Homo sapiens: one gene and its partner. The protein of the gene in region 1 purifies or fractionates together with the protein of each later gene. This does not show direct contact. Each region holds a gene or a part of one and is shown on either strand. Other genes may lie near its edges.

Evidence for each region. Proteins that work in one complex are often made in the same cells at the same time.
Region 2: the proteins of EPS15L1 (region 1) and GAPVD1 purify together in Homo sapiens (affinity purification with mass spectrometry, with the first as the bait; one large-scale study listed by BioGRID). This does not show direct contact.

The regions. Positions count from the first base shown.
Region 1 is NC_000019.10:16,398,900-16,402,550, reverse strand, and holds part of EPS15L1 (epidermal growth factor receptor substrate 15-like 1), read left to right. Parts: intron 1-65; coding exon 66-230; coding exon of another isoform or gene 231-245; exon of another isoform or gene 246-1,962; intron 1,963-3,651.
Region 2 is NC_000009.12:125,268,188-125,271,838, reverse strand, and holds part of GAPVD1 (GTPase-activating protein and VPS9 domain-containing protein 1), read right to left. Parts: intron 2,904-3,651; 5' UTR 2,855-2,903; intron 1-2,854. UniProt on the Homo sapiens protein: Acts both as a GTPase-activating protein (GAP) and a guanine nucleotide exchange factor (GEF), and participates in various processes such as endocytosis, insulin receptor internalization or LC2A4/GLUT4 trafficking.

The DNA of each region.
Region 1 (3,651 bases):
AAAAGCGTCTTTTCTGACATGTTTTCCTGACCCTGCTTAATGCTGATGATGTCTTTGTTGCACAGGCAAGGAGCAAACTTTCCCAGCTGCATGAAAGCCGCCAGGAGGCCCACAGGAGCCTGGAGCAGTATGACCAGGTGCTCGATGGAGCCCATGGTGCCAGCCTGACCGACCTGGCCAACCTGAGCGAAGGCGTCTCCCTGGCAGAGAGGGGCAGTTTTGGAGCCATGGTAAAGGTTGAATAAACGTATTACAGTATGGGGCTCTGGTCCCCTGGTGTGACAGCAGAACATCCCACCCGCCAGATCTGTTCATGGCCAACGTTGGTTCCAGCCAAGTGCAGGCGGCTGTCTGTTGTTTTTGCTGCCACTTTGCGCGTTCACACCAGGCCTTGCAGCCTGGCACAGGTGGCCATGCTGAATCCTGGCTTCCAGAACAAAGTCCAAGATAGGCCTGGATCCTTTCAGAACCTGTTTTGAATGCCCTCCATCTCTGCGGAAGTATTTACATTGGGCCAACCACCCAAGTTCAGAGGGCTTCTCAAACTTAACCAAAATTGGATCAGTTTCTGCTCATTGTGGAAACCCCACATTCTACTAATCAGGGGGCAGGGGACATCTGAGGGGCATGTGTCTATGTGTATGTGTGTTTCCACAAGGAACACCTTGAAAAGCAAATGTGTTGCTAAAGATGAGGAAGTAATGGCAAGCAGCGCCCCAGGGTGTTGCTCTTTCAAGTAAGAATTGGCCTCTCCTGAAATTTTGGTTATGTTTAAAAACCTCTGCACTTTACTCTGACCTCATGACCCTGGAGTTGTGATCAGGCCTGGGGCAGGGGACTGTCGGCCCCTTACATTTTTGAGAGCTCTTGAGCCCCTGATACCAAGACAGGTGTGACCTTTTCCTTAGGTGGTCACATCCCCCCTGTTCACACCAGAGTCTGCCCCTGCAGCCTCGAACCTGGGGACATGTAGTTTCCCATTTCGTCTTGGTGCTGTTCCGGGAGCGGATGGGCCGGGCCGCGCATGTCTGGATGTTTCCTTGGTGCTCTGCTGCCTCCAGCAGCTCTCTCCGTGCTGCCACCCTCTCTCCCAGGGCTCCTCCCTGGAGCCCTTCTGCTCCTGGGCCTCTGTACGTCATGGATTCCTCTTCCTCCCTGGAATAAGAGTGAGCGCTCGTGCTCTCTAAACACCACACTTGCCTCTTTATGTTCAATGCTTGATGTGTTTCTTTTCTCAGCAGCCAAGTCCTCAGTCCCAAGGATTTATGGGGAAGCACACGCGTCCCCTGGGCTGCTGGGAAGGCACTGCTGGCGAGCTCATCTGTCTCTTGTGTCTGGCCCCCGCTGGGTGCACCGCCTCCCTCTTTCCTCCCATACTCTCTTTTCTCGTGGACTCGTAATGAGGTGGTTTCCATAGCCGCCCCCGGGCCCGTCATCATCAGCTTTATCGTCTAAATTTAAACGATGAGCATTCATCCTTCATGAGTTACGAGAAGCCAGAACTCCTCGCTTTGCTCCCTGGCTGTTCTTGGCGTGTGTGTTTCCGTCTCACAACCCGGCTCCTACTTTCCCCATCTGGCATTGTCCCCTGGCACCGCTTTTGGCTTGTCCTGCTCAGTCTTCGTTCAGGGAACAGCTTCCTCTTAAATGTCCCTTTTGCAGGTTTTTAGAAACCGGTTTTCTTGGATAAAAGTTGGCAGTGAAGTGGCAGTTTGCAAGTGGCCAGTGATTCCCCCAACTCCAAAGACAGATTTTTACCTTTCTGGTTATTTTTGTTCATCTTTTGGGCAGGGCAAAGGTTACCTGAGACACAATTACTTTGGGAATGTAGATTAAGATACGTTACATGGAAACTTGCAACTGGCATCCGAAAGAAAAACTGTTTTTATCCTGTTGTACAAATACAGTTTTTAAAGCATTTTTCTGGCTTGTTTCTATTTCTTAATAAATACTTGGAAGAGAGATTTTTGTTTACTCCTGAACACTTCAAGACTGCTTCAGAGCCGAGAGAGAGGTGTCTTAGTTCTCCCTTGTGGGTCGAAGTTGGGGGTTTTAGGTCCCTGAGAATAGTGTATCCACAGTGGTACATCTGGAACTTCCTATGTTTGGACAGTTCTACTCAGGTTACTAAATTCCATGTGAAGCTCACGCAGTGTGACTTTATCTCAAAAGTCAGGGGTTTTTTTTTTTTTTTGTTTTTGTTTTTTTTTTTTTGAGACGGAGTCTCGCTCTGTCTCCCAGACTGGAGTGCAGTGGCACAATCTCAGCTCACTGCAACCTCTGCCTCCCGGGTCCAAGTGATTCTCCTGCCTCAGCCTCCCGAGTAGCAGAGATTACAGGCACGTGCCACCATGCCCAGCTAATTTTTGTATTTTTAGTAGAGACGAGGTTTCACAGTGTTGCCCAGGCTGGTCTTGAACTCCTGACCTCAGGCAATCTGCCCGCCTCGACCTCCCCAAATGCTGGGATTACAGGCGTGAGCCACCTCACCCGCCAAAGTCAGGGTTCTTAAAGCCATATTTATTTCTTGTCTATCATCTGATTATGAGAATATTGACCTCTTGCTCACCATCCAATCAACTTATGGAGAGAAGCTAATAAATCATCCCAGACTTAGGCCTTACTGAGGACAGATTAAGAAAGGTTGATTGATCTGTCACATCCAGACCCAGTGGCATGCTGGAGCCAGTTTTTATTGACTTTCCAGAACCGATTATTAAATAGGAACTGGCCGGGCACAATGGCTCACACCTGTAATCCCAGTCCTTTGGGAGGCTGAGGTGGGAGGATTGCTTGAGGCCAGCTGCGTGCCACTGCACTCCAGCCTGGGTGACACAGCGAGACTCAATCTCTAAAAAAAAAAAAAAAACCCCAAAAAGCAAAAAACAGGAACTTGTGAGCTAGTTGCTTGGAAACTTGAAATCAACCATGATGAGACTGTTTACACCACAGGAATTGGCAGAAGCTCTAAACCAGGGCTTTTTTCTGAGAGAACTGATTCCCAGCACACCCCTGCTGCCCAGCACTCCTCTAAAGGGCGGGAATGTCACAGAAGCTTCTTCAGCCCCCTTTCAGAGTTGCCGTGTGTATTTCCTAAGAAGGGTACAACTTCACACTGGTTGCTGAACTTGTTCAAGATATTACATCTCTGCCAAGGGCCGTGTCATTCATCCTGGCCCTTGTCTGCTGTACTCGTGTCCCCCAAGTTGGCAGATGGGTCTGTTCTCCTTAGTAGGTGGTCTGCAAGGGGTAGAGTTGATGGTATCTTTGTAACAGGGAAATCTCGTTTCCCACTCTGATTCTGTGCAATGGAATCAAAACCACTATTAGTTACCCTGACCTCCTGAATCCTGCTGGGGTCTCAGGCTTCCCCTTGGAAGGGGAAGGAGTGATTGTGGCTTCAGGCCAATGACTCCTGAGAAAGTGATTGCAGGCCTGACTGTCAGTGCAGGGGGCTTGCAGCCAGCATTCCCAGAACCTCAGTCTCTTCTCTGCCATTGTTCACTGTTACTTGGCAGTCTTCCAAGTGACGACTGAAAACACTGAAAAAAAAAAACCTTATAAATAAATGCCAATTAAAAACTAAATAGAGCCAGGCATGGTGGCGAGTGCCTGTAGTCCCAGCTACTTGGGAGGCTGAAGCAGGAGGAT
Region 2 (3,651 bases), on another chromosome or scaffold:
AAGGAGGGCCAGGTGCGGTGGGTAAGCCCAGCACTCGAGGCAGGTGGATCACTTGAGGTCAGGAGTTCAAGACTAGCACGGCTAACACGGTGAAACAACGTCTCTACTAAAAATACAAAAATTAGCCAGGTGTGGTGGTGGGTGCCTGTAATCCCAGCTACTCGGGAGGCTGAGGCAGGAGAATCGCTTGAACCCGGGAGGCAGAGGTTGCAGTGAGCCAAGATCAGGTCACTGGACTCCAGCCTGGGCAAGAGAGCAAGAGTCTGTCTCAAAAAATAAAAAATAAAAAAATAAGTTAATCTAAGTCCGAAAAATATAAGTATTTGTTAAAATTAAGATTGGCAGGATATTACTACACTCTGATCCTAGGAAAAAGGAAAAAGACTAATATGCCTTGACTAATTTTGTTTTGTCTTTTTTCTGATAGAAAAACCACGTGGGTTTAATCCTTCCAAAGATTCACAGAAAATAAATAACAACACATAAGTTGGTAAGGAAAAAAAAAAGAACTAAACACGTCTGACAACATGCTTTCTACTAGTCTCCAGCGTGGGTGTACCGGCATTATAAGGGAGCAAGACCAAGCAAGCACCTTTTCGGACAGACATCTTAGATTAACAAGCAGACACAGTATCTGTTTATACACTTCCAAGAGTATGTTTAAAGCCTGTATTTTTTAAATGGCTTACAAAAAAAGGTATACAAAAACATAATTTTGGCCACACACACACACAAAGAGTATTAGAATTAAATTATACTTTTATACTTTTCTTTCAGACACAAGCATTTATCAGGTATCTGGTTCATCTTCAAACTCAAAAAAAAAAATTTATAGAAACCCCTATGTAGTCTGTTAAGTCCTTCACTCAACCATTCTTTTTTATTTTTTGAGATGGAGTTTCGCTCTTGTTGCCCAGGCTGGAGTGCAATGGCACGATCTCGGCTCATCGCAACCTCTGCCTCCCACTCCCAGGTTCAAGCGATTCTCCTGCCTCAGCCTCCTGAGTAGCTGGGATTACAGGCATGTGCCACTACACCTGGCTAATTTTGTACTTTTACCAGAAACGGGGTTTCTCCATGTTGGTCACGCTGGTCTCAAACTCCTGACCTCAGGTGATCCACCCGCCTCAGCCTCCCAAAGTGCTGGGATTACAGGCGTGAGCCACTGCGCCCGGCCTCAACCATTCACTTATATATATATTAAATATTAGAAACTGAAGTATCAAGATATTCACCACTTCCTCTGACCACTGTATTAGAGTTTTAAACTGGGTTTCAGCTTTGAAACAAAAAATAACCACCCTTCTGAAATTTTTTACAAAATCATAATACATATTGAAACATATCCAGAAAAGTTAGAAAATATAGGTAAGCATAAAGAAGGAAAGATTCTTTTGTTTTTGTTTTTTTGAGACAGACTCTAGCTCTGTCACCCAGGCTGGAGTGCAGGGGCACAATCTCAGCTCACTGCAAACTCTGCCTCCCAGGTTCAAGCAATTCTCCTGCCTCAGCCTCCCAAGTAGCTGGGACTACAGGTGTGCGCCACCACACCCAGCTAATTTTTGTATTTTTAGTAGAGACGGGGTTTCTCCATGTTGGCCAGGCTGGACTCAAACTCCTGACCTCAAGTGATTCGCCCACCTCGGCCTCCCAAAGTGCTAGGATTACAGGCATGAGCCACCATGCCTGGCCAGCAGTAAAGTTTAACTGACTATAATCTTAGTTACCAGAAATCAAACAGCTAGGTGCCTAAAACTTATTCTAAAATGTGTATACAGTAAAAAAAATTATTGGTCCTAGTTCCTTTACAAATTAAAACATCTGCCCAAGCATGGTGGCTTGCACCTATCCCAGCACTTCCAGAGGCCAAGGCGGGCAGATCACTTGAGAGTAGGAGTTCAAGACCAGCCTGGCCAACATGGTAAAACCCCGTCTCTACTAAAAATAAAAAAAATTAGCTGGACATGGTGGCAGCCACCTGTAATCCCAGCTACCAGGGAGGCTGAGGCAGGAGAATCACTTGAACCTGGAAGGCAGAGGTTGCAGTAAGCAGAGATCATGCCACTGTACTCCAGCCTGGGCAACAGAGTGAGACTCTGCCTCCAAAAAAAAAAAAAAAAAAAAAAAAGCCAGGCATGGTAGCTCATGCCTGTAATCCCAGCACAGCGGGTGGATCACCAGAGGTCACGAGTTCAAGACCAGCCTAGCCAACATGGTGAAACCTTGTCTCTACTAAAAATATAAAAAATGAGCAGGGCATGGTAGCACCTGTAATCCCAGCTACTCGGGAGGCTGCACTCCAGCCTGGGCGACAGAACGAGACTCCAACTCAAAAAAAAAACAAGAACAAAAACTAAAATATCCTGAAAACGATTACTTAAGGAGTTAAAGTTGAAAATAATTCTATGCAAGCACAAGTTTAGGTAGTTCAAGTGTAAAAAATACATAACTGAAATCCTTCTTGCTTAACAGAAAATTAACTCCAGAGAAGGAAATATGTATGACAAAAAAACAGCCTCCCAAAAGTTGAAGGAAAAAAAAACACTCAACTAAACATTTGAAAATTATTTTTTCAAGTACTAGTCTGTCCAAAGCAAATAAGAAGGACTCAGCTGGGCAAAGTAGCATGCTCCTGTATTCCCAGCTACTCAGGAGGCTGAGGCAGGAGGATCGCCCTGTTCAGGCCAGGAGTTTGAGGCTTCAGTGAGCTATGATGGCACCACTGCACTCTGATGACAGAGTGAGAATATGTCTCAAAAAAAAAGGATTCCACTTACATAAAACTTAAAAATTTGTAGCTGTAGGCAAACTTAAAAAAATTATTTTAAAAAAATATTTTTAAATCATACTTTACCTTTGAGATTCCTAGAATGTATAACCAACTCTCTCCAGTACACTTACCCCTAAAGAAAAAAAAAAGGAAAAAGGAAAAAATAATAAACTGAATGTCTTATCACTGGAATGTACCTACTTTCGCTATTAAACTACCTACAAACATTACAAGTAGCTGGGCGCAGTGGTTCATGCCTGTAATCCCAGTACTTTGGGAGGCCGAGGCAGATGAACTACTTGAACTCAGGAGTTTGAGACCAGTGTGGGCACCTCTACAAAAACTACAAAACTTGTATTTAAAACTCGTCTGGTCAAACAAAAATAAAATACAAAATACAAGTTAGCCAAGCATGGTGTCATGTGCCTGTGGTCCCAGCTACTCAGAAGGCTGAGGCAGGGGAATCTCTTGAGACAGGGAGGTGGAGGCTGCAGTGAGCTGTGATAGCGTTACTGCACTCCAGCCTGCATGACAGACCAAGACCTTGTCTCGAAAAAAAAAAAAAAAAAAAAACAATGTTAGGGGTAATTATTCCAAATAAACTAATGAAACTGAAGCATACATTTACAGAGCAGCAACTTTTGTATTGTTAGTTGCACCAACAAAAGATCAGTACATATTGTCACAATTTCCAGAACGCCATGATCAGGTAGTGTTACCATGTAAGGTAATAAGAACTATGTGCCATCACTGGAGACCAGCTCACAAACCCTCAGTGGAGCCAGCTGCGTAAAGTGAGAAGTGACAACATTGTGACGGTGGCTAAGAAAGCACCAGTAGAATAAAGTTCTTGGTTTTTTTTTGGGGGGGGGGGTTGTTTG